7 linked regions of the Homo sapiens genome follow. The protein of the gene in region 4 purifies or fractionates together with the protein of the main gene of each other region. This does not show direct contact. Each region holds a gene or a part of one and is shown on either strand. Other genes may lie near its edges.

Region 1 (3,500 bases), on a different chromosome or scaffold from region 4:
AGGCCCTGAACTTTGATTTTGCTGAGGTCCAGCGGGGGTGCCACATTCACCACAAAGGGGCTCTTGGGGACAGGGTCCCCGCCATAAGTCACTGTCACTGCCATGTTGCCCTGTTGGGTACAATGGTAGGTCAGAACTGGATATAAGGCAAGGTCCTACAACATCCTGGTGGTGAATATGGGCTCTGAAGCTCAGATCCACCATGAGAGTGAGGGCAGGAGGCAGGAAAGGCGTGGAGGATCCAGAACTGGTCCCATGGGACTGGAGGAGGGAGACCCAGGGCTCTGGCGGGCCGGCCGGGCGGTAGCATGGGAGGGGCAGAGCGCACCTGCTGGACAGCGGTGTACTTGACAGTGTAGGAGTAGTCATGGTTGTCTATGATCTCAAAGTCCCGCACAACCTCGCCCTTGGCTGTCCCTGCAAACTGCACATCCAGCTTGGCCTTGCCGGCTCCCTTGGTCAGCACCGTGAAGTGGGTGGGCTTCCCGACTTCCACACCTGAGGACCCACCCAGAGATGTGGTGAGGGCCTGGCAGCCACCTAACCCCAACCTCGAGCCAGTCCCAGCCCCTGCCCAGACACTCACCTGTGCGATTCAGCCCAGGGCCCTCGGCCTTGACTTTGCTGGCATCGTGGGATGGGTCCACCTTGATGTGGAAGGGGCTGGCGGGGATCTCCTGGATGTGGAGGAGGCTCAGTCAGGGCTCTCGAGGGGAACACACCCCTGCTCTCAGCTAGATGCTGGCTCAGGACACACCCAGGGGACCCAGCATGGACAGGGGCAGCCTCCAAAAGGGCCCCCTTTGCTTCCTCTGAGGCACCCTGCCTCACACAGGTAGGGCTCCACCATGTCTGCGGAATCATCCCTCCCTGTTCCCAGTGACAGCATCTCCAGCTGCCTTCTGGAGCTGGCAGGTGCATGTCGCTGTGAGTACCCAGGAGCTTAGGTACCTGGTTGGCAAACAGCACCATGATGGTGTAGCGGCCCGCCCCTGGTGGCGTGTACTTGACGGTGAAGGTGTCGTTGTCATTCTTGATGATGTCGAAGTCAATGTCAGCCTCTGCAGGGCCCACCACGCCTGGGGCGCACTTGATGCCGATGCTCACGTCGCCTGCAGAGAAGCGGGCACTGCTGTGAGTTGGGCTCAGCCCCCGACTCGACTCACCCCCGCCCCCTCCCAGACCCACCCCTTCCGGCTGGGCGCACCTTGCCCCGCCTCGCTGCAGTCCACCGTGAAGTAGGTGGGCTCATTGGCCTTGAGGCCTGTCTTCTCCACTCCGGGGCCGTACACCTTTACCCGCTCGGGGTGGCTGCCCTCGCCCACGTTCACCTGCGGGAGGGGTCGCAGCTCAGCGTGGTGCCCTCCCTCAAGGCTCATCCTCCTGCCCAGCGCACCCGGCCCAGCCTCAGTGGCACCAGCCCAAGCCTCAGTCCCAGCCTGAGCCCAGGGACAACAGGGACTCCAGCGAGGGTTCCGCCCTCCCTCAGGGACCCCTGGTGGTGGGCACGGGGCAGGCCGGGAGGACGCACCCGGAAGGGGCTCTTGGGCACGTTTACGCCTCCCCAGGAGATGATGATGGTGTGCTTAATGGGCTTGGTGGGCACGTAGGAGCAGCGGAAGGTGCCGTCGCCGTTGGGGATCACCTTGATGTCGATGGGACAGCCGTCGGCGTCCTGTGGGCATCACCCAAGCAAAGTTCATAGCTGTGGCCTCTGCAGAGCGCCCTCTGCTGGCCGCAGGTGAACCCAGCGCCTCCTTTCCCACCCCCAACACTGGCACTCCCGCCCCCACACCAGCCACTGAGGCCACCAGAGCCCAGGGCCACGTGCTCTGGCGGCCAGAGCCCACCCTGGGAGCCTGACTCAAGGCCATCTGTATGGCTTGCTCTCCCAGCCTAGGTTTCCTCAACTCTGAAATGTGTTGGACAGGAAGAGTGTGGGCTAAATTTATGTTCCTAAAACTGAATCATGAGCCTTTCAAAGAAGAATCACCCTCTTAGATCCTCAAGAATATGTTCATTAACCTCTAGGGGTCAATGGACACCAGTCTGAGAAACTGACTTGGGAAACCAGTGTCTTATTCAATGAAACAATCTTTCAATTACAAATTAGCACAAAAATGACTCTTTGGTAAAATACGTTTTTAGGTTATCATCGTTAAGAAAACACAAAATTTAAAATTTTCCATGGTACTGATGGGCCCATGAGTATCAGTCCTGCCTGATCTTCTGTGATGCTGTCATTTCCTGCTGGGAGGCCTCTGCCTCTGGCCTGGCCCTGCCTTCCAGGGTCCCTGCCATGGGTAGTAAGGGCAGCAGAGACTGGACAATGACCTACCTGGGCATAGAGCTTCAGGTCTCCCTTGCCAGCTGCACGAGCATCAATGGTGAACTCAGCGGGCTTGTCCACGATGCAGCCGGTAGGCTCCAGGCCAGGCCCAAAGGCCTTCACCTGTGCGGAGGGAAGAAGGCTGAGTTGGGGAGGGGAGGAGAACCAGCTTGCCCCACCCCCGGGGCAGGTGTGTGTGAGCTGGGACCACACCTTATCTGGGAAGCAGTCAGGTGGGGCGGGCAGGATGTGGGCAATGAAGGGTGAGTCTCGGATGTCCTCATCGTCACAGATGACGTGCACAGCGTACTCCCCAGGCTCCGTGGGCCAGTACCGCACATCGCAGGAGCCATCCCCCTTGTCGTCACATTCGATCTTGGCTTGTGAGGGCCCCTCGATGGAGAAGCCTGGGGCAAGGTGGGGGAGGGTCGGGGATCCAGCATCAGGCAAGACCCTTCCGTCCCCCAGCTCCCCTCTAGCTGCCCTCATGTCCTATCTCCCTGCTCACCCCAGCGCTCCCCAGCATGCGCACTGCACCCATTACCCACAGTGTCCCCTGCTGCCCTCCCCCGCAGCACTCCCTCCTCCTGCCCCCCAGCCACTTACCCAGTGTCCCCACCTCGGTGCCAATGGCTTCCACCACAAAATCGGCTGACTTGCCCACCTGGCCAGTCTCCAAACCAGGACCCCAGGCCCGGACCTTTTGCACTCCTGCCTCTGGGCTCACCTGTACCTCAAAGGGGCTGGGCAGAGAGGGAGCTGGTGTCCATGCCAGGAAGTGCCCCCCAAAGTCCCTCGCAGCCCAAACTCCATCTCCCCTCAAACTCCCTCGCAGCCCAGTGCCCCTCGTCCCTCCCTGTGATGGCCTAGACAGGACAGCATGGGGGGCGCAAGGTACTCACCTGCGAGGGATGGCGTAGCCGCCCCACGTGATGGTCACCACATACTTCCCAGGCACCACCGGGTAGTACTCGCACTCGAACACACCATCCCCAGCCTCCCGCACCTTCACTGGCTCCTCTGTGCCCTCTGAGGAGATGGGGGCAGGGTGGGGAAGAAGGCAGATCAATATCCTTGAAGTCCCAGCTCCTCAATCCCCTCAAGGAGCCATTGGGACCCCGACCCAGCCCGAGGGCAGTGCTGTAGTGAGCAGTGCTGCAACTCAGGGCAG
Region 2 (3,500 bases), on a different chromosome or scaffold from region 4:
ACCACCCCACTCCCAATCTTTCATCAACTTTATTGAGGTATAATATACTTGAAAAGTCCCTCATTTTAAGTGTACAGTTTGATGAGTTTTGACACATATATTCTGTCATGTAACCACCGCCACAAACAAGATGCAGAACATTTCCATCACCCCAAAAGTTCCCTTGTGCTTTGTCTCTTATCTTCCCCAACATCTTCAGGGAGTTTACTGGAGTTATGCTTGCTCATTAGGGCAGAAGGAAGTTTTTTCTTTTTGGTTTTTCCGAAATGAATGCTATGGTTCCACCTTAGCCCAACCAATAGAGATACTTATTACAAAGGCCTGGCATTGGAGATCATGGCTGTGGAGTTTCATTTTCAGTGGGAGGCGGAAGTGGATATAAAAGGAGTTTAGATGATTTTTGTTTAATCTTTCCTTCACACACTGACCACTTTGCCTTTATTAATGATGTCTGCCTTTGATGCCTTCTGAAATGCCCTTTGGTTAATTTTGCCCTTTAACGGTTCCTCTTCCCCATCTGTCTTGGTTGTAACATCAGTCTGAGTTTGTGCTGATACAACCTAAACTTTGCAGAAACTTATCCCTGGCTCTTCATGCCTCAGGCATTCTCCATTTCTCTTCTAAGCCCTCCTCACTTGGAATTCTTTTTAACTAGCAGGCATTAGCGTTAAATATCTCCTTGTACAGCAAAGGCTTTTTGCCAATTGTAGAACTTAGGGATGATGTAATTATTTTTTGATTTCAAAATAATGGTTCTAAACTTGATTGAAATCAAGGGAGAAGTGCATTGTACATAATGCACTAAGTGTTCATGAGGACCATGTATCTACCTCCTGTGGCCTAATGTACTACTGTGGCCAAAAATGTGGGCAAGATGCTGGGCTAGAGGGAGACTGGATGCACAAAAAAGATAGGTTTTGTCCATCTTTTGTCACATATACAAAAACATATAGTCCTGGCCAGGAATCCTGCATGTGTGGTTGGGGTTTCTACTTCTTGACAAATGTACATGAAACTAGAGAAATTTCAGAATAGGAGAAGTAAAATGATCAGGGCAGTGAAGAGGCTAGACAGATTAAAGGTGTCGAACTCTCTAGTTTAGAAAGATGAAGGTGAGCTGGGAATACAGTAGAGGTTTTTTTTTTTTTTTTTTGAGACAGAGTCTCGCTCTGTCACCCAGGCTGGAGTGCAGTGGCGTGATCTCAGCTCACTGCAACCTCTGCCTCCTGTGTTCAATCGATTCTTCTGCCTCAGCCTCCCGAGTAGCTGGGACTACAGGCATGTGCCACCACCCCTGGCTAATTTTTGTATTTTTAGTAGCGATGGGGTTTCACAGTACTGGCCAGGCGGGTCTCGAACTCCTGACCATGTGATACGCCTGCCTCGGCCTCCCAAAGTGCTGAGATTACTGGCGTGAACCACTGTGCCCAGCCCTATAGTAGACTCTTTGACATCCAGAATAGTGGAAGTTTGTAACATCAAATCTCAGTTTAGTAGGGATATGTTTTAGATCTTGAAACAAATCAATATATGCCATTTTAAATGAATTTCTACTTTAAACATTTACATTTTACATTTCTGAAACTCATCACTTCAAGTTATGGTATTAGCTGAGGTACAGGATGTAAATAGAGAGGGTCTGGGTAATTTATGGATGAGAGGTTTGGCACATTGACTTACCAAACCTCTCTTTAACAGTGTTAGTCAGTTTACCAGCCACAGCTGTTTTAGTTGGAAGAAACAGAAACCCAAACTCAAAGCCAAAGAGGAGTTTATTTGCTCATGTGACTTAAAAATCTAGGCATGGCTGGAATCAAGGCTCAGACATGGTCATTGGGGCTCTCTTCACTGACTCTCACATGCTGTCTGACATTGGTTTCATCCTGAGGGCAGCTTTTTTTAGGGGTGAAAAGATGGTCAGTGGCACCTGCAGATCACATGATCTTACAGCACTGGGCCTGGAGGAAGAGAGCCTGATAGAGGAATTCTGGTCATGTGCCTTCTCCTTTCATTGGGCCTCTAGGCAGTAGGTGAGGAGCACCATGAGTGGTCAAGTCTGTGCTCACCCCAGAGACCAGGGGGAGGACAGGGCACTGTGATTGATAGTCCTACTCCAACCTCATGGGATGGCTGTGAGCTGTTCGCCATTGGAAGGAAAAGTGCTAGGTAGTCAAAATAAACAACTACCCTCAGTCCATGTATGCTATGAATAGGTCACTGAAAATGATAGTCATGGAATTCTACCCCTCCTTTTCTGATCTTTGAGCAAGAAGAATGGGAAATTTTGCTTGACCGGGGACATTAGGTATCTTTCCCCTAGAGAATCATTTTGGATTGAAAAATAGAAGCCAGGCCAGGTGCGGTGGCTCATGCCTGTAATCCTCAGCACTTTGGGAGGCCAAGGCGGGCGGATCATGAGGTCAGGAGCTTGAGACCAGCTTGGCTAACACGGTGAAACCCTGTCTCTACTAAAAATACAAAAATTAGCCGGGCGTGGTGGCGTGTGCCTGTAATCCCAGCTACTCAGGAGGCCGAGGCAGGAGAATCGCTTGAACCCGGGAAGCAGAGGTTCCAGTGAGTTGAGATCGTGCCGGTGCACTCCAGCCTGGGCGACAAAGCAAGACTCTGTCTCAAAAAAAAAAGCCATGGAGCGTCTGTGCAAGCAAATGTTACTAATAGCATGTTAGAAATTGAAATTTTGAAAATTTATTCAGTCTTCAATTTTGATTTTTCATGTATTATTATTATTATTATTATTATTATTTTTTTTAGACAAGGTCTCGTTCTGTTGCCCACACTAGAGTGCAGTAGCGCAAGCATAGCTCACTGCAGCCTCGAACTCCTGGGCTCAAGCAGCCCTCCCAGCTCAGCCTCCTGAGTAACCGGGACTGTAAGCGCATGCCACCATGCCTGGCTAATTTTTTAATTTTTGTAGAGACAGAGTCTCACTTTGTTTCTCAGACTAGTCTCAAACTTTTGGCTTCAAGCAATCTCCCACTTAATTATCCCAAAAGTGCTGAGATTATAGGCGGGAGCTACCATGCCCGGCCATTATTCAGTCTTAATTTGGGGGCTATGAACCCTATGTCACCTTTCTTACTGATTTCTTTCTACCGTATTTCCTCAGCATTTTATTTCCCCTATTTTCTTCACATCCTTGCTTGCATACGTTATTCTCTTCCCCTATTTTCATACATAGATAAGTTGCACGATTTCTTATTGCACAACAGTAAGAATTGTGCACAATTTCTTTTTGCCTGTCCGTCATTCCTTGTTCATGTCTAGTGGTAGTCTGTCTTCTGTTCTCTTCCTTCCACCTGTTCATCTGCTTTATCCCCCTACTATTTAATTTTATCTACCCACCCCTTATGCCCTGTTATGATTTGTTATAACGAAGTATATATACATCCCACACCTATAATGGAATAAAATAAGTTACTAAAGGGTGAATCTTTTTTTCATAACTTAGATTGAGGAGGGAACTTCATTTTTGTTTTTGC
Region 3 (3,500 bases), on a different chromosome or scaffold from region 4:
ACTCTATTTGGCAAAAGAGATTCTGCTTCAGAATTTAAAAATCTTTACCACCCTGCCAAGGAACAGAATGAAGGTAGTAACGTTTTCAAAAAATTTTACCATTGTACTAGATTTTGAATGCTGAGCCATCTCAGAAGAAACCAGCCTGAATGTCACTTGACCAATGAACTCTCATGTCCATCCTAGAGGCAGCAACTAACTGGCCAGCAGACTGGTACACAATGACCTGAATGCAACTACACCAAAAATCCAATTACAAAATGCCCTGCTAACTCTCAGGACTCTCTTTTTTTTTGAGTCGGAGTTTCGCTCTTTTTGCCCAGGCTGGAGTGCAATGGTGCAATCTTGGCTCACTGCAACCTCTGCCTCCCAGGTTCAAGAGATTCTCCTGCCTCAGCCTCCCAAGTGGCTGGGATTACAGGTGCCTGCCACCACACCCGGCTAATTTTTTGTATTTTTTTAGTAGAGACGGGGTTTCACCATGTTGGCCAGGATGGTCTTGACCTCTTGACCTCGTGATCCGCCCACCTCGGCCTCCCACAGTGCTGGGATTACAGGCGTCAGCCACCGCGCCTGGCCTCTCATGACTCTTCTTAAGATGAGCTTCTTGTGAGGGAAGTACTCTATGGTGACCCATCCAAACTCAGGCTCAGTCTGTCAGTTCAACAACTCTACCTGTTCATGCGTTATCTACTACCAAATAATTGGCTATACAGTCCATTCTGAAAAGACCTTAGGACCAAACCAAGAGCAGCCACCTTACTAGAAATCTGAGGAAACACAAGAGGTTAGGGTTAGGAAACCTGACAAAGTTTTAGGTCAAAGACCCCACAGTAGGAAGGATGCATAACATTCATTCATAGTTAGTATGTTTAATTCTCAACTTACCCTTTAGTTCTGTCCTGCAAAACTAAACCACTGAGAAAAAAAATATCAGGCTGGGCGCGGTGGCTCATGCCTGCAATCCCAGCACTTTGGGAGGCTGAGGCGGGCGGATCATGAGGTCAGGAGATTGAGACCATCCTGGCCAACACGGTGAAACCCCATCTCTACTAAAAGTACAAAAATTAGCTGGGCGTGGTGGCGCGTGCCTGTAATCCCAGCTACTTGGGAGGCTGAGGCAGGAAAATTGCTTGAACCCAGGAAGCGGAGGTTGCAGTGAGCTGAGTTCGTGCCACTACACTCCAGCCTGGCGACAGAGCAAGACTCCACCTCAAAACAACAGCAGCAGCAACAAAAAATATTCACTGAGTTTTGTGGGAGTTGTCTATTAAATCTTCAACAAATTCTAACGTCAAGGCTGGGCATGGTGGCTCATGCCTGTAATACCAGCACTTTGGGAGGCCGAGATGGGCATCACCTGAGGTCGGCAGTTTGAGACCAGCCTGACCAACATGGAGAAACCCCGTCTCTACTAAAAATACAAAATTAGCTGGGTGTGGTGGTGCATGCCTACAATCCCAGCTACTCAGGAGGTTGAGGCAGGAGAATTGCTTGAACCTGGGAGGCGGAGGTTGCAGTGAGCCGAGATCACTCCATTGCACTCCAGCCTGGGCAACAAGAGAGAAACTCCGTCTCGAAAAAAAAAAAAAAAATTCTAACATCAGTAGAGTTGCTAGATCTCTTTCCTACGCTCATGGTATGTTTGGGTGCAAAGGTATAAGTCGCCATGCATGGGTTTCCCCCAAGATGTCTGCTCCATACCTGCATGAACACCTTTCCAATGACCACATCGTCGTCATCCTTAAACACTGTGCTGAAGACTACTGTGACTCTGTCCTTTTTAGACTCAACATACCTGAGAGGAACAAAATCCATGAGGATAAGTACAGAATCAGAATGGGGTTTTGTCAATAACTTGATCTACAAGTACATCAGAAGGCTAAAGTCATAAATCTCTTAAATCATAATATAAAGGTGTGCCAAATGAGATGATATTTATGGTCAACAAAGTCAGTGCACAAAATGAATGCCCTAAGAGAGGCAGCAGATGGAAATTATCAGAAGTAGATTTTATTGACTTGTAAATATAACATGGACCTATGGTCACCCTGCCTGCTGATTATCCAGGCTATACTCTTAAACATGACTCAGAACAGTGGTGCCTTAAAGGAAAGCACTGGATTCTCTTTCCACCATCTGTCAGCTCTCAGTATCTGGAGAGTAGGAGGAGTGGCTGATTTCTGCCCTATCATCTACTTCCTGGCTTAAGACATTTTATGAGAAAAACATTTTCACGCAATACAGCTGAAAGTTTGACCAAGCCATATTTCTTTCAGTAAGTGCCATGGTGGTGTAGCAGCCATATCCAGGCTTCAGGACCAAATTCTATACTCACATGGTCTCATCATCCCTATAATGGATAACTGCCCTGTTCTCTCCTTCCTTGCCCTCTTCTTGGAATTGGAAGTATTTTTCAAAGACAGAGGCAAAACAATTTCGCTTCAACATGCCAGCTTGATGCACAATGGAATCCTTGGATGCCGGAAGATTTTCAAGGTCATATAGCAAAGAGACATTGTATCCTGGAGGGAAAGAAAAAACAAGAAACAAAAAACAACCCAGCAGTTACATTTAAAAAAAAAAAAAAAAAAAAAAGCAGCATACTATCTATACCAAGTAAACAGAGACTAGAGGCAACTAAAAAAATCTTTTTTCAGGTTCTATTGACATTTTGTCTCATTATCTGTACTTTTAACCTGGGTAGAATATAGTCTATTTCCATCTATCTCACAGGGCAAAATGAGGTGAAATAAAATCTTAATTTTTATAAGATTCTTGTAAATATATATAATTAATGTTAATCAAAAATTTGAATCAGTATCAAAGATGACTAATTACAAATATGTAATGGGAGAAAGTCAGAACCTGGGAACTCTGATTGGAAATGTACCCTTCTAGACACAGTTGTAAAGGAGCCACATATATTTCTCTGATAGTTTAATGTGCCAAGTATCAGTATGGCCAGCAAATGGGTAGCTTTGTGATAATAAGATAAACCCTTCTACGTGCCACTGCAAACTCTTTATGAGGTGGCAGGGTAGAAAAACCAACTACCTGTTCATACATATACCTCCCCAATAGCTTTTATTGGTATATATTGTACAATTTTTAAAACATTTTACTTCATTTGATCTCCATAACCACCTTTGAAGTCTGCAGGCTAGATAAGGTTACTGTTTTGCAGAGGGAAAAGGAGATTCAAAGAAGTGACGTGACTTGCCAAATGCAGCATGACACATAAGTGTAGGGCACTCTATTTTGAGTCGAACAGAACTGGGTCCAAATCCTAGTCTTGTCATTTTGTGACCTTAAAAAAACTGCTGGGTGTGGTGGCTCACACCTGTAATCCCAGCATTTTGGGAGGCCAAGGTGGGCAGATCACCTGAGGTCAGGAGTTTTGAGAGCAGTCTGGCCAACATGGCAAAACCCTGTCTCTACTAAAATCACAAATATTAGCCAGGCATGGTGGCGGGCGCCTGTAATCCTAGCTACTTGGG
Region 4 (3,447 bases):
TGGAATACGAAATTAATATAACTGAGGTTTTCCCTCAAATCCTATGCTTTTAAGCTAATGATTCTACAGTCCTAGAACCTTTTTTTTTGTTTTTTTTTTTTTTTTTAAGAGACAAGTTTTACTTTGTTGACTAGGCTGGAGTACAGTGGTGCCATCAAAGCTCACTGCAGTCTCCAACTCCTGGGCTCAAGCAATCCTCCTGCCTCAGCCTCCCCTTTAGAGTAGCTACATCTATAGGCACATGCCCCCACACCCAGCTAACTTTTAAAGTTTTGTGGAGATGGGGTGTTGCTTTCTTGCCCAGGCTGGTCTTGAACTCCTGGCTTCAAGCAATCCTCCCACCTCAGCCTCTCAAAGTGAGAGGACTGCAGGCATGAGCCACTGTGCCCAGCCTGCAACTAACACTTATGGTTATCAATACTCCCTCCCTTAGTTAACTGTCTTAGGTATCATAATAGCCTTTCTTATATGTATCAAAACTCATACTGAACAACAAGTTCTCAGTTGCAAAAGGAGATTTATTGTTTGCACCTGTCTATAAGTACTTGCCCACAAGTTAAACAAACGCACGCATAAGTCCACAGGGGCTCCTTTTCATGGCATATCTCATTTACTCCCTCACTCTCTCAGCATCTGTTGAGCATCTACTGCCCTCTAAGCATTGCACACATGCATTAGGGACTATTTTCCTTGGGGAGAAGATGGTGGGGTAGAAATTGCATGAATTTGGAGTCAGGCACTCCCAGCCTCTGCCCCTTCCTGGCTGTGTGTCCCTGACCCACGTTACCTAACCTCTCTGAGCATCCACTGCTTCCTCTGTAAAACAGAATCATATCTGCGGTGAGGATTAACTTGGTAATACATGTGAAACCCTTGCAACTAGGAATATATCCTCCAATTCCAACAATAACAACCACCATTTATTTATTAGGTAGTGTGCCAGGCAGAAGGGGATTTGCATGCATTATCAGTGAATTCACCAATGACCCCATGAAGTAGGTAGCATTGTCAGTTTGTTCTGATCCAATTTCAAGAGCAAGAGGGAGGTCTACCACCACCACCACCACCACCACCACAATGTACCATTTGTGGGATAATTTGTCTTTTTAAAATCTTTTATTTTTATTTGTTTTTGAGACACGGTCTTGCTCTGTTGCATAAGCTGGAGTGCAGTGGTTCGATCTCGGCTCACTGCAACCTCTGCCTCCCAGGCTCAGGAGATCCTTCACCTCAGCCACTCAAGTAGCTGGGACCACTGGCACACCACCATGCCTGGCTAATTTTTGTATTATTGGTAGAGATGGGGGTTCACCATGTTACCTGGGCTGGTCTTGAACTCCTGGGCTCAAGCAATCTGCCTGCCTCGGCCTCTCAAGGTGTTGGGATAACAGGCGTCAAGCCACCGTGCCCAAATTTGTCTTTTAGAGTCGGATGCTGGAGCATCCTCTCCTAGGCTGGGAGGTTGCTAATGTAAATGCCACACTGTATTTGCTGAAGTGGTTTACAAAAAAAAGGAATTTCAGGTTGAAAATGGACTCTTAACAAGGTACTTCAGGATGCACAATTTCCATTTAAAGGCAAAATATGGTGAATATGATCTACGGGAAAGAAACACACCTTGTGTCACCCCAATAGCCTTTGGAGCAAGAAGTGGGTCCAATTTCCCAGGGGCTGGGGGCTTCATCTCCAACTCATCTGCTTCCTTGCTGAAACCACAAGGGAGATCAAGATGCATCTTTGTCTGGCTTCTTTCTACTTCTGGGGTGGGAGAGACAGCTCTGGGAAGGGTTTCAGATGATGAGGGAGCAGTTCCTATCTGGCTTCATCAATTTTTAGATGTACCTGTAGGCAAATTACTTCCACTCTGTGGGCCTGTTTTTTCATAAACTGAGAATAATGCCAACAAGGCAGTTAATAGAAGGATCCCAAGGTAGTCCAAAGAGTTCAAGAAAGTTAGAAAAAGGACTCTCCTCTACCTTTTTTTTTCTTTTTTTTGTTTTTTGAGACAGAGTCTCACTCTGTCACCCAGGCTGGAGTGCAGTGGTGCAATCTTGGCTCACAGCAACCTCCACCTCCTGGGTTCAAGCGATTCTCCTGCCTCAGCCTCCCGAGTAGCTGGGATTACAGGCGCCCGCCATCATGCCCGGCTAATTTTTGTATTTTTAGTTGAGACGGCGTTTCACCATGTGAGCCAGGCTGGTCTTGAGCTTCTGACCTCAAGTGATCCACCTGCCTTGGCTTCCCAAAGTGCTGGGATTACAGGCGTGAGCCACCGTGCCCAACCCTCTCACCTCTTTTGAGATATGCATCACAGACCACAATGCCCAGTTTGGAGAATTCCAGGGGATTCTTTATGTAAAGCACATAGAAGGTATGTGATAAACATAACCTGGTTTTAGGAGGCAAGGATGCGTGGGTGGGTGGTGTTTCCTGGGTGGAGCTCTCCTTTAGAAAGGGCTTCTTTACCATAAAGTGAATCCCCCTAAGTTCCAAGCCGTCCTCTGTGCTGCCTTTGGAGCCTCTCCCGAACATCTTGCCAAGAGGGGGTTCCCCAGGCATAAACACAAACAAGCATGCGGATCCTCCCCAGCAAAACCACCTCCACTGTAGATGTGATCTGGGATCGTGCCCAACCGCGAGACAGTTACTCTGAGGAGGAAATCAGGGCAAAAGCAGCCCATTACAGGAATATTGTCCTAGGGCCTTGAACAAATAAGTATCGGATGAGTTTTATGAACACACATTGTTAGGGTAGTGTGGGTGTTGTCTCCAAAAAGCATGTGTGCAATGTAATTAGCAAAGCGTGAGCCTACTCAGTTGCATCATATTCTTATTTTGATGGTTTCTAAACTTGGCCATCAGAATTCCCAGGGAATCTCAGAAACATACAGATTGCTGGGGCCCATCCCACCCCATTCATGGCTGGAACCCAAAGAGAATTTGTTAGCTATCTTCAACCTTGCCAGAGAACAGTGTCTTGAACCATGACCCTCAGTGATTTGTTTTTAAAACATTTTACAGAGAGGGCTGCATTATAGCTTGATAACACTATTAGAAGCATCCTGTGGCTTGGCGCGGTGGCTCATGCCTATAATCCCAGCACTTTGGGAGGCCAAGGCGGGTGGATTACCTGAGGTTGGGAGTTTGAGAACAGCCTGACCAACATGGAGAAACCCCATTTCGATTAAAAATACAAAATTAGCCAGGCGTGGTGGCACATGCCTGTATTCCCAGCTACTCGGGAGGCTGAGGCAGGAAAATCACTTGAACCCAGGAGGCAGAGGTTGCGGTGAGCTGAGATCACACCATTGCACTCCAGTCTGGGCAACAAGAGCTAAACTCCATCTCAAAAGAAAAAAAAAAAAGAAGCATCCCACTAAACTTTTAATATTCAATAAGCAATTCTTAACCAAAATTTGGCACCCCATAGAGATTTACCTAGAAGGG
Region 5 (3,500 bases), on a different chromosome or scaffold from region 4:
CTGTGTCTTCCACCAGAACCTTCCTGCTCCCAGGAAAGGCCTGGCCTGGCTTAATCAAATCTAATAAAAAAAATCAAAATAACAACCAGTAGGCAACCTGCTAGGCTGATCCAACTGGACATGCTGGTGGCTGAGCAGGTCCTGGAGGCCCTGTCTTGCCAGGTGTTAACTCCTTGTATGCTGGGTCCCAGTGGAGGAACCGGGGCCAGGAGAAAAGCTAGGGCAGGCGGTGGGGGCCCTGACAGAGCTCTGGCAGCCTGATTTACCAACTGGCCCAGAAGCATCTCAGTGTTTGACACGGGCATACTGGTGTGCATAGGCTGATATCAGCTGTTGGTCTGGCAGAGTCCATGCCCAAAAAACATTTGTGGACCTGAGCTGAGGGCCAGAATGGATGTGCTTGGTTTCTGACCCATGACATAGTAGCATACAGGGCATGTGGCTTTGCCAGCTGTGTTCCTATGGGCAAGGAACCATGGAGATCTGAGGTCAGAGGTCATCAATCCAGAGGTTCCCCACTGACAGCAATGAGAGACTGTGAGCTATTTCTATTATTTCAAAAATATGAAAGAACACTGTCTTACCTATTTTAAGAATCAGAAAAAAATCGATTGCTACTAAATGGTTAATTACTAGCCCTGATAAACTAGCTTCTGCCCTTCTTGCAGGAATCTAGCTTTGCAGTAATTGCACTGTACTGTTACCCTTTAGTTGTCTGCTTGGCCAAATGGACCAGAATCTTTATGAAAGTGGAAGCTGAGACTGGTCACAATTGTATTCCCAGAACCTAATTCAGCGTTGGGCACAGAGAGACTCTCAATACATATGTGCTGGATGTTTAAAAAGAAGAGTTGATGGCTACTTCAGAGTAAGTACAATTTAATTTGATCAGAAATATCTTTTGAGACTTATAAAATAAAATTGGTCATTGGGACCTGCTGATGAAACCATCATTTTTATTTTTTTAAATTTTTATTTATTTATTTATTTATTTTGTGATGGAGCCTCGCTCTGTCGCCCAAGCTGGAGTATAGTGGTGCAATCTCGGCTCACTACAACCTCCGCCTCCTGGGCTCAAGTGCTTCTCCTGCTTCAGCCTCCCGAGTAGCTGGGATTACAGGCATGCACCACCAAGCCCAGGTAATTTTTATACTTTTAGTAGAGACGGGGTTTCACCATGTTGGCCAGGCTGGTCTCGAACTTCTGACCTCAAGTGATCCACCCGTCTTGACCTCCCAAAGTGCTGGAATTGCAGGTGTGAGCCACTGCGCCCAACCAAAACCATTGATTTTAGAGATGGAAAAACTGAGGAACAGGGAAGGGCAGGCTCTTGTTCTAATATGATGTGCCGAGTGAAGATTTAGGGGTCACGTGACTGCACTGGACTTGCAGGTCCACCTCTCACTTGCTGTGTGACTGGACAAAACAAGTTGCCTGACCTCTCCGAACCCTAGATTTTTTAAGTGCAAAGTGGGGAGAACTGCACATCTGAGACCAGAAGTGGGTGTGAGGATTGGCCAGGATGACGTGTAGGTGGTGCCAGGTGATGGCTGTTCCCTCTACACCCCTCATGGCTCCTGGTCCAATGCCTTCCACTGTACCACATAGAGCTCTTTGTTAGTGGGATACAACCAGTCCTGAGGCCACATATTTCAACCCTTCTGTTTCAAGGCCCCCAGCCACAATGCAACAGAACAGAAAGGTACATACATACGCCACGGGGTCATTACTCCGTGTCCCCACGATGCTGAACTTCTTCACATATGAGTTTTCTTTCAGGGCTTCTGCATATGCCTTGAGGGTGGGGATGGGGATATTCTGCACAAAGAAAGGCAACAGAGAGAGTGACCAGAAGCCTCCTCTGGGACAGGCTGAGGCAGGTGGATTAGCCTGGCTACTCTCTGATTCCTGGCAAGTCTCTGGCCAAAAAGCTGAATGGGCAAAAGGTTTAGGCTTTGTCCCGGACGACTGAAATCTGGGGAGAACTTTCTGGTAAACAGATTTAGAAAATCCTCCCTGAAAATTTCAGATAAGACCTGTAACCTCTTTCTTTGTGCACTTGGGGGCCAGAGAAGAGGCAAAAATTAAGGCGTGTAGTATTGTGCAAAGAGCTAGGACTAGGGGTGTGAGAGGGGCTGGAACCTGGCCTTGGTCCCAATGATCGGCAATGTTCCTGACTTGCTAGGTGTCTCTGTGGAAGCCTCCTGCCCTCTCTGGCCCTGTTTCTGGAAAACAGGTAAGGGGGTTGCATATGATACTCTTTAAGAGACATCTACCCCAGGGGGTCTCTGCTCCAGCGGCACATCAGAGACTCCTGGGGAACTTTTACAAAATGGTGATGCTTGGGCCGGCCCAGAACAATAGAATCAGAATCTCTAGGGTCAGGCCTGGGCGTTGGTATATATTTTTTAATCTTCTCAGGTGAAAACCACTGATCTGGTCCAACAGGCTCACAGTGCAGAGGAGAAACTGAGGCCCAGAGGAGGCTGGGGCCTCACAGGGAGATTCCATCCCTCATGTGGCCCTGAGGCAGCATTCACTGCCAGTGGGCAGCATTCTGAATTGTGCCAATGTCTCCTACTGGGCACATGAAAGAAAACATGGCTGTGTTTTTACCAATCTCTCAGAGCGTCACTTTAGCTCCCATGGGAGCAGAGCATGGGGAGGCCAGGTGGGGGTGAACACTAGGGTGCAGGTTTCCAATCTGATGGTGCCGTGGGGCTGGCAGCTGCTTAAAATAAAGTGGAGAAGGAAAGAAAGTGGAGCAGGGGCATGGGGGGCTGGCTTCTAGTCTTACCCCCACCCCCCTCCCAGAACTAATCCACTGGTCTCTGGGCTCAGCAGGTGGGTAGAAAGCTGCATTTGTCTCTGAATTCTTCCTGCGGCGGCCTGTTCAGGGTGAGACTGCCTGTCCACCTGTCCCTCCCCTGCCCCGGGATCACATAAGGAAATGTGCACAGAGAAAAGGGCAGACAGCTTGGGATATCGCTTTGGACATTTTGGCCAACAGCTCCCTTCTGTGGCTGTAAAACAAGGCTGAATATGAACGTGATATAGCAGCAGCGATGGCACAGGGGAGGGGCCTGCCCAGGGCCTGTGTTACCCCCGAGCCTAGTGGGCACCGGACTTTTCCAGCCTTGAGATCCCATGCAGCAGCGTGTGTCTGACTCATGATTTTATCTCGGAGAATCTCTCAGTGTTTTGAATAACGTGGCAGGTTTCCAGATCAAAGCTGGGTTGGCCCGTGCTAAACATCTGGGCCTGATATCATCCTCAGAAAGAAACCAGGACTGCCAGATGCACTTGTTTACACTGCCCACCCCTCTTAAAGGCTCCCATTTGCAAAGGTTTTGTCCCTATTCCCAATGCAGAAACACCCAGAATCCAAACAGGACCCTGTTTACTCTGCACAACCAACCCTGGACCGTTTGCATTTGGGTGACATGGTTCCCCCTCCCCCAGCCACACACAGGTAAAGTGAAATAAATGGACCTTACCCG
Region 6 (4,060 bases), on a different chromosome or scaffold from region 4:
AATCCAAAATTGAGTCAGAGCAGTGTGAACTGAGACAGCCATCTTCATCTTCTCCCTCTTTTTTTCAGTTTGTTTTGAAATTTAGTTTTATATACTTAAGACTTACCTTCTGGCAATTTGGAATTAAATTTCTGAGATTGCTGTAAATTATTTCCTTTCTTTGTTTCTCTTCCTCTTTCTTACTTCCCTATTTTACTCTTAATATTTTATTGTTTTAGTTGAATTCTAAAACATCTTATCAGAACTTAGAGTTTTTATTTCTCCACCCACAGAACCATGGAGTCTTTAAGTATCAGAAATTTGTCTCCTCGTCAGAATCTTCTAGATTTCCAGAAGTTTCCAAGTCGCTACATATAAATGTTGCAGAAAAACGTGTAATTCTCATGTGCAAGTAGGCTTTTTTCAGCGGATACATTTAGCATTATAGTCAATTGTTATTTCGTTGCCTTAAAAGAAGCTGTTTTCATTGTAAAGGTGATGTGTTTTTACCATATAATTCAAATTTGCATAGGTACTTCATATTTTAAAAGGTGACTCACAGGTATGTCACTAATAAAAACAGTAACATTTAAACGACTGAGAAGGTAGGGGCTCTAAATAAAGTAAATGCGTCGGCGAGGGTAGGAGCGGGAAGAGGCAAAGGGGTGCGAAATTCCCATCCCAAGCCCCCTCCTCCAAAGACCGAATGGCAACTTAGTTGTGCGGGAAGGTTCCCCCCTATGCAGGGCAGCCCAGTCCAAGCCGGCCCGATCCGGGGCCGAGTGAGCAGTGGTTCTTGCCGCAACCGCCACGCAGCCTCGCTGCCGCCCAAGCGCGGACACCTGGTTCCTGGGTCCCCCGCGCGGAGCCCCGGACTCCTCGCCCCTTCTCCGAACAACTTTCTCCCTGCTTGAACTGATTCTCGCTGTTGGTAGACTGCACAGTCACAGTATCCAGCCGGACAGGACCTGCTTTGCCGGGACTGGAAACAACTACCGCGGCAAAAGAGGCCGTTTCGCCATGGGAAGAACAAGAACTCCCGGCTTGTCCAGGGGCAGCCCCTCTCTGCGCTGCAGGGCGCCTACCCTCGCCCCAGAGGCTCTGCGCCGCGGGCGGGGCGACCCCGGGGGTCGCGCGCCCTCTCCCGGAGCGCGCCCTCCCTCCCGGAGCGCGCGCCCGACGGCCTGCCGCGGCCCCGGCGCCCCCGCCCCTTCGGGCGCTCCGTAGCCGTGACGTGCACGCCGCAGTGCCGGGGACTCGGCGGGGCGCCGGCCGGCGGGCGGAGACCGACTCGGGATCTGTCCGAGCAGGAAGCCAGCCTCAGCCCGGCCGCTGTCGCCGCCCTGTCCTGGTGCCCGTCCGCGTCGTCGCCCTCTTCACTGGCCCTCATCACTTCTCACCGCGCCCTCCAGCTTCACCCGTACAGGTAGCCCCGCCGCCGCGCACCTGCCTTCGCTCCCGCACCGGTGAGTGTCCCAGAGACCCACTGCGGGGCGTCGGCGCCGGGGTCTCGCGTTCCCTGGCCCGGCCTTGCTCCCGGGCCTCCTCGAGCAGCTCCGGGGCCGACGCTTCTGTTCACTGCCCGAGGACGCGGGTGGGAGAAGCAGGTGATGGATGGGTGGGCCCTGGGCAGCAGTGGGGCCGGCGGTGGTTCTCGTTTCCACCGAAAGACAATCAGTCTCCTTTCATGGGTTCTCATCACCAAGGTCCCTTTGTGTTTCTTCCCTGGCTCCCAGGTAGAAGCAGAGCACTCAGGTGCCTAACTCGGACTTGGACACTCCGTGATAGTTTTATTTTCTCTTTTGTAAACACGCTTAAAATTCAGTGCAGGGGGAGCGCAGTTTGCTCTGAGATGTGAAGATCAAATGATACCATTAATAGTCTAATCATGTAGGAGACCAGATCGAGACTTTCTAAAGCCTTATTCTTAGTCTCCAGGTGGTCCAGTACCTTGAGTATGTTAATTTACGGATATGCTACTGAACAAGAACTTTTTTTGTTAATTTCCAAAAACTCCCTAAAACGATTAAAATGCTTAAACTCTGGGATTTTAATTTTAAGTAGGACACAATTTGATGGGGTTATTGCTAGAACATCCGTGTTTAAAAGTATTTCCATACAGTTTAAAAAATTCATTACCTTTTTTTTTTTTTTTTGAGACGGAGCCTTGGTCTGTCGCCCAGGCTGGAGTGCGGTGGTGCGATTTCCTCTCACTGCACCCTCCCCCTCGCGGGTTCAAGCAATTCTCTGCCACAGCCTCCCGAGTAGCTGGGATTACAAGCGCCCACCACCACGCCTGGCTAATTTTTTTGTATTTTTAGTAGAGACGGGGTTTCACCATCTTGGCCAGGCAGGTCTTGAAATCCTGACCTCTTGATCCATCCGCCTCGGTCTCCCAAAGTGCTGGGATTACAGGCGTGAGCCACTGCGCCTGGCCAAATATTCTTTACATCTTACCTGGCATAAAGTGATGTGGTGGAGGGATGCTTAAATCCTGATTTACAAGTATTAGTGAGAAATGAGGAGCACTGCCCTAACTTAATAGACTTAACTGTACGGGCTAAATAAGCCTCATTTTTTTTTTTTTTTTAATGCTCTGGTGGTATAGATGCAGTCTATCTAAATAAAGTCAGAACTTGAGAGTTTTAAAAATTAACTTTTTTTTTTTTGAGACAGAGCCTCGCTCTGTCAGCTCACTGCAACCTCCACCTCCCAGGTTCGAACGATTGACCTCCCTCAGCCGCCCGAGTGGCTGGGACTACAGTAAGGGCGCGCCACTGCCCAGCTAATTTTTGTATTTTTAGCAGAGACGGGGATTCGCCATGTTGGCCAGGCTGGTCTCGAACTCCTGACCTCAGGTGATCCACTCGCCTCGGCCTCCCAAAGTGCTAGGATTACAGGCTTGAGCCCCCGCGCCTGGCCTGAAAATTAACATTCTTAAGATTTAGCTGAAACTTATCTTCACACCATAAAACGTGAATCTTGAACTTGGACTGGTAGTGGTCATGGTACAAAGGTTGGCGGCAAAACAGCATTTCTGTACAAATTAACTGAACTTCCTAGATGTCTTGGGTTGTGGTTTTCAAACTGGAGAATGTTTAGTGAAAAAATTACCTTTGTGCCTTTTTTCCTTAATTGTAGAAACCGCCACAAATGTTACAAAGTGGGCTATAGCCAGAGCTTGAAACCATGCTGCCGTTCAAAATAGCTCACAGACTTTTATATATACAGCTCATTTTGAGTATTTTACGTTACGCAGGAATTGCATCCACTTTGGTAAACAGAAGTCATTTTAGTCTTATGTACATTTGCCCATTATTTTTGTATTTTTTGTGTGACATGCTGTTTATCATTCTCTCATCTTTGTAAGTTACATTTTTGTTTTCAGAAACCATTGTAAATGTAACAGAAGTATGAATGACATTTAAGGAAAGATCATGATTAAAAACTGTATAATATATAAAACTATATATGATATACATATATATTCTTGGTTAGTGCCTAGAAACATGAGCAAGAAAAATGTTATGAACAATTACAATATTTAATGTAAATTAATGCAATTAAATATTGCATTAAAAACAAAAGATCGTAAATCATAACCAGTAGGGATTATCTGAAATGGATTTTTCCCTGTTTATGTTTACGTGGTCAAGTTTTAAAATAACAGTGGCCAGGAAATCTGAGAGAGGCTGAAGGCTCTGTTCTCATCCTGTTGTGACTTTGCCTGGAGTCTGTGGTGTATCATGTAGCCCATTGTTTAGACAACTGGGCTGTATCTGGGTTCCAAAATGTAGCTTTCTTTAGAAAGTTTTAAAGACTTTGACCATGTGAGGCTTGAACAAATGCAAACATCCAAACATTGAAAAAAACCCATTTTAACTTTCTGTTGATAGTTGAGACTCCATTTTTGACATGTAAAATACCAGTTTTAAGAAGAGTTTACTAACCTCTGTGTAGTTTCATTTTTATATATTAAAATATCTAAAAATATTGGGAAGTGTTATAACTTAAATAAATCTCAGAGTTTATTTATTCTTTTTTTTTTTTTTCTCTGAGATGGAGTCTTGCCCTGTCATCC
Region 7 (3,500 bases), on a different chromosome or scaffold from region 4:
TGGTTAGTACTGACAGCAATTCTTGGCCACAAACAGAACCAGTTCTATAGTGGAATGAAACTTCTAGCAGCCTTGCTTAAACTATTCATTCATCAACACACTGTGGTTTCTGCCGTAGAAGGAAAGGAACACGAATACACAAGAAGTGAAAAAAAAAGAAAGGCGTCTTAGATGCCAATCTTTTAAAAGTTTATTTTAAAAAGGATATTGGGGGCCAGTCACAGTGGCTCATGCCTGTAATCCTAGAGCTTTGGGAAGCCAAGGTGGGAAGATCGCTTGAGCCCAGGAGTTTGAGACTAGCCTGGGCAACATAGTGAGACCCCCATCTCTAAAAAAAATTTTTTTTTAAATTTCTAGGCATGGTGGTACATGCCTGTAATCCCAGCTACTTAGGAGGCTGAGTGGAGAGGATCAATTGACCCCAGAAGTTCAAGTGAGTTATGACTGTGCCACTGCACTACAGCATGGGTGACAGAGCAAGACCCTGTCTCTAAAAAAACGAAAACAGGAACAAAAAGGATATTGGGAAAAGAGAGGCTAGAAGTTAGGACTACCTCAGAGTCATAGTTTATTAAAAAAATATTTTAAATGTTACTTTATTAAGAAGTATAATATGACTTTCAAAAGTATAAGCCACAGAAAAAGAACATTTCCATCATTCTGCAGTATTTTTAAAAATAGAGTATCTCAAGTGTTAAAACTTCAAAAATAAAAGTTGTCATACCAACAAAGGTACAACCCAGAGGAATAGCATCAGGTGTGCATGTAATAACGCATTCACTTTGGAGCTTAATCCCCCTGTAGAATGGGACCAGTGCCAAAAGGCACAAGAATGATCCATAACTCAGTGGGCCCACACAGAAAATGTCAGTATGGAAAGACACACAGCAGTGTGGTTAAGTAATTGCTTACAACATTTCAAATACCACTGTCAAATTAGGAGAGATTCAGATTCAAATCCTAACAAATATTTATTGAGCAGCAACTATGTTTCAGGGTCTATGCTGAGTGTTTTCACATGTATTATTGTACTTTATCCTCACAAGTCTATTAGTGCATATTAAATCATAATGAAAGCAATCCTTGGCCAGGTGCAGTGGCTCATGCCTGTAATCACAGCACTTTGGGAAGCGGAGGCAGGCAGATCACTCGAGCCCAGGAGTTTAAGACCATTCTGGGCAACATGATGAAACCCCGTCTCTACTAAAAATATAAAAATTAGCCAGGGGTGGTGGTGCACACCTGTTTTCCCAGGTAGTTGGGAGGCTGAGGTGGAAGGATCACCTGAGCCTGGGAATTCGAGGCTGCAATGAGCCATGATTGTGCCACTGCACTCCAGCCCAGGCGACAGGAGTGAGACCCTGTCTCAACAACAACAACAAAAATAATAATAATAATTTAAAAAAAGAGGCCAGGCACAGTGGCTCACACCTGTAATCCCAGAACACTTTGGGAGGCCCAGGTGGGTGGATCACCTGGGGACAGGAGTTTAAGACCAGCCTGGCCACCATAGCGAAACTCTGTCTCTACTTAAAATACAAAAAATTAGCCAGGCATGGCGGTGCATGCCTATAATCCCAACTACTCAGGAGGCTGAGGCACGAGAATCACTTGCACCCAGGAGCTGGAAGTTGCAGTGGGCTGAGACTGCACCACTGCACTCCAATCTGAGCAACAGAACGAGACCCTGACTCAAAAAAGAAAAAAAAAAAAAAAGAAGGAACCTAGACAAGTGGGAATACTATTCAATTCTTTACTTAACCCCCTAAACACCACTGAAGATCTGACCATTATCCTAAAGGCAGAAAAGTCATGCCTGATTATCTGCATATAGATTTTCTCTTTCTTTCCCTTATTTTAGCTCAGTTCTTTAACTTATATAAGAATTACTATATAGAGTTACATACACAAAACTGTACTTGGCAGGTAATTTAAGGGTCTTTAAGGGCAATTTTAACCAAACACAGTTTTTGTCTGTGCACTGACTTTAGACCCTAAAACCCAGTAACAAACAACTCTTGCTACTCTTGTTCACTCTTCTCCCTCTCTCAGGACAGCCAGTGAAGTCATACAGTACCTACTGGACTTCAGAAGCATTACTGACATACTTCATTTGTTATGCAGGCAAAAAGTGGAACCACTGGAAAAAAAAGCAGAATTCTTGAAATATTCTAAACCTGCATAAACCTAAGTACCATGTACTTTATGTTCCTGAATGTCAGGACTAAGCCTTATTCATCTTTGAATTCTCTTAAGTATTAAGCAGAATGCTTACCATAGAAGAGGCCCTCAAAAGTATTTATGGAATTGAATACAAATGCTAAATCCACTGCCCAAACTATGTGAATAGATCTTTGGTCATTTTACACATGCAAGTATATTCAAATTAACTTCCTTCATAGCTCCATATTATACCAGTGCAGTGTATAACGTTGTTATTGAACTGTGAGGTAAGTGGAAATAAGGTTTTCTCTGCCAGACCACCACTACAAACATTCCTGGATCAGAGGCCTAGTGGCTAGTATCGTTTGCTAGGGAGGTTTTCCCAGTGGATAAGAGTTCATTAGCCCCAGAGAGAGCTCACAAAATACTTCACAAAAGTCTTAATTATCTCTCTAGAAGGAAACCTACCAGAGAGTAAGGCAGAACCCTTTTATGGCACAGTAAATACTTATAGTTAGTTACACAATGCTTTAGGTTTACAAAATATTTTCATATGTATTATTCATTAGTATTATAATTCATTTCAGAGATAAGGAAAATAAAGTCCCAGAGAAGATAAATGACTTATCACATAAAAAATAGTAAAGCCAAGGTTTACTTAGGTTTTTTGACGCTGAGATTCAGATTTTTTTGTTTCTTTGTTTTGAGACAGGGTCTCACTCTGTCGCACAGGCTGGAGTGCAGTGGCACTATCATGGCTCACTGAGACCTTGAACTCCTGGGCTCAAGTGATCTTCCCACTTCAGCTTCCTGAGTAGCTGGGACTATGGGTGTGCACCACTGCACCCAGGTAAATATTTTTATTTTTTATAGAGCCAGGGTCTTGCTTTGTTGCCTAGGCTGGTTTCAAACTCCTGACCTCAAGTGATCCTCCCATCTCAGCCTCTCAAAAGTGCTGGGATTACAGGTGCTAGCCACTGTGCCTGGCCAGGTTCAGATACTTTTAAACTCAAACCACATCCTCTGAGATATCTAACACTTAAAAAGTCTGATACTACCATCCCTACCTCCAAGATGGTGTTGGGTTTTTTTTTTTTTGGTTGGTTTAAAAAAATTTTTTTTAGAGACAGAGTCTTGCTGCCTTCCAGAGTACAGTGGCACAATCATAACTCACTGCAGCCTCGACCTCCTGGGCTCAAACGATCTTCCTGCCTCAGCCTCCTGAGTAGCTAGGGCTATAGGTGCATGCCACCACACTCAGCTAATTTTTAAAAACTTTTTTGTAGAAGGCCGGGCGTGGTGGCTCACACCTGTAATCCCAGAACTTTGGGAGGCCG

What was found.
Region 1: the proteins of SSH1 (region 4) and FLNC purify together in Homo sapiens (affinity purification with mass spectrometry, with the first as the bait; one large-scale study listed by BioGRID). This does not show direct contact.
Region 2: the proteins of SSH1 (region 4) and MYO5A purify together in Homo sapiens (affinity purification with mass spectrometry; one large-scale study listed by BioGRID and IntAct). This does not show direct contact.
Region 3: the proteins of SSH1 (region 4) and ARPC2 purify together in Homo sapiens (co-immunoprecipitation; one study listed by IntAct). This does not show direct contact.
Region 5: the proteins of SSH1 (region 4) and TMOD1 purify together in Homo sapiens (co-immunoprecipitation; one large-scale study listed by IntAct). This does not show direct contact.
Region 6: the proteins of SSH1 (region 4) and MYO6 purify together in Homo sapiens (co-immunoprecipitation; one large-scale study listed by IntAct). This does not show direct contact.
Region 7: the proteins of SSH1 (region 4) and PSMB2 purify together in Homo sapiens (affinity purification with mass spectrometry, with the first as the bait; one large-scale study listed by BioGRID). This does not show direct contact.

Annotation. Positions count from the first base shown.
Region 1 is NC_000007.14:128,840,406-128,843,905, reverse strand, and holds part of FLNC (filamin-C), read right to left. Parts: intron 3,359-3,500; coding exon 3,232-3,358; intron 3,073-3,231; coding exon 2,936-3,072; intron 2,737-2,935; coding exon 2,543-2,736; intron 2,453-2,542; coding exon 2,339-2,452; intron 1,676-2,338; coding exon 1,532-1,675; intron 1,332-1,531; coding exon 1,208-1,331; intron 1,113-1,207; coding exon 952-1,112; intron 678-951; coding exon 587-677; intron 499-586; coding exon 329-498; intron 111-328; coding exon 1-110.
Region 2 is NC_000015.10:52,518,881-52,522,380, reverse strand, and holds part of MYO5A (unconventional myosin-Va), read left to right. Parts: intron 1-3,500. UniProt on the Homo sapiens protein: Processive actin-based motor that can move in large steps approximating the 36-nm pseudo-repeat of the actin filament. Can hydrolyze ATP in the presence of actin, which is essential for its function as a motor protein. Involved in melanosome transport.
Region 3 is NC_000002.12:218,237,689-218,241,188, reverse strand, and holds part of ARPC2 (actin-related protein 2/3 complex subunit 2), read right to left. Parts: intron 2,526-3,500; coding exon 2,339-2,525; intron 1,799-2,338; coding exon 1,705-1,798; intron 1-1,704. UniProt on the Homo sapiens protein: Actin-binding component of the Arp2/3 complex, a multiprotein complex that mediates actin polymerization upon stimulation by nucleation-promoting factor (NPF).
Region 4 is NC_000012.12:108,777,691-108,781,137, forward strand, and holds the end of SSH1 (protein phosphatase Slingshot homolog 1), read right to left. Parts: 3' UTR 501-3,447; downstream 1-500. UniProt on the Homo sapiens protein: Protein phosphatase which regulates actin filament dynamics. Dephosphorylates and activates the actin binding/depolymerizing factor cofilin, which subsequently binds to actin filaments and stimulates their disassembly.
Region 5 is NC_000009.12:97,564,166-97,567,665, reverse strand, and holds part of TMOD1 (tropomodulin-1), read right to left. Parts: coding exon 3,498-3,500; intron 1,819-3,497; coding exon 1,711-1,818; intron 1-1,710. UniProt on the Homo sapiens protein: Blocks the elongation and depolymerization of the actin filaments at the pointed end. The Tmod/TM complex contributes to the formation of the short actin protofilament, which in turn defines the geometry of the membrane skeleton.
Region 6 is NC_000006.12:75,747,979-75,752,038, forward strand, and holds the start of MYO6 (unconventional myosin-VI), read left to right. Parts: upstream 1-1,260; 5' UTR 1,261-1,445; intron 1,446-4,060. UniProt on the Homo sapiens protein: Myosins are actin-based motor molecules with ATPase activity. Unconventional myosins serve in intracellular movements. Myosin 6 is a reverse-direction motor protein that moves towards the minus-end of actin filaments.
Region 7 is NC_000001.11:35,631,527-35,635,026, forward strand, and holds part of PSMB2 (proteasome subunit beta type-2), read right to left. Parts: intron 12-3,500; exon of another isoform or gene 1-11. UniProt on the Homo sapiens protein: Non-catalytic component of the 20S core proteasome complex involved in the proteolytic degradation of most intracellular proteins. This complex plays numerous essential roles within the cell by associating with different regulatory particles.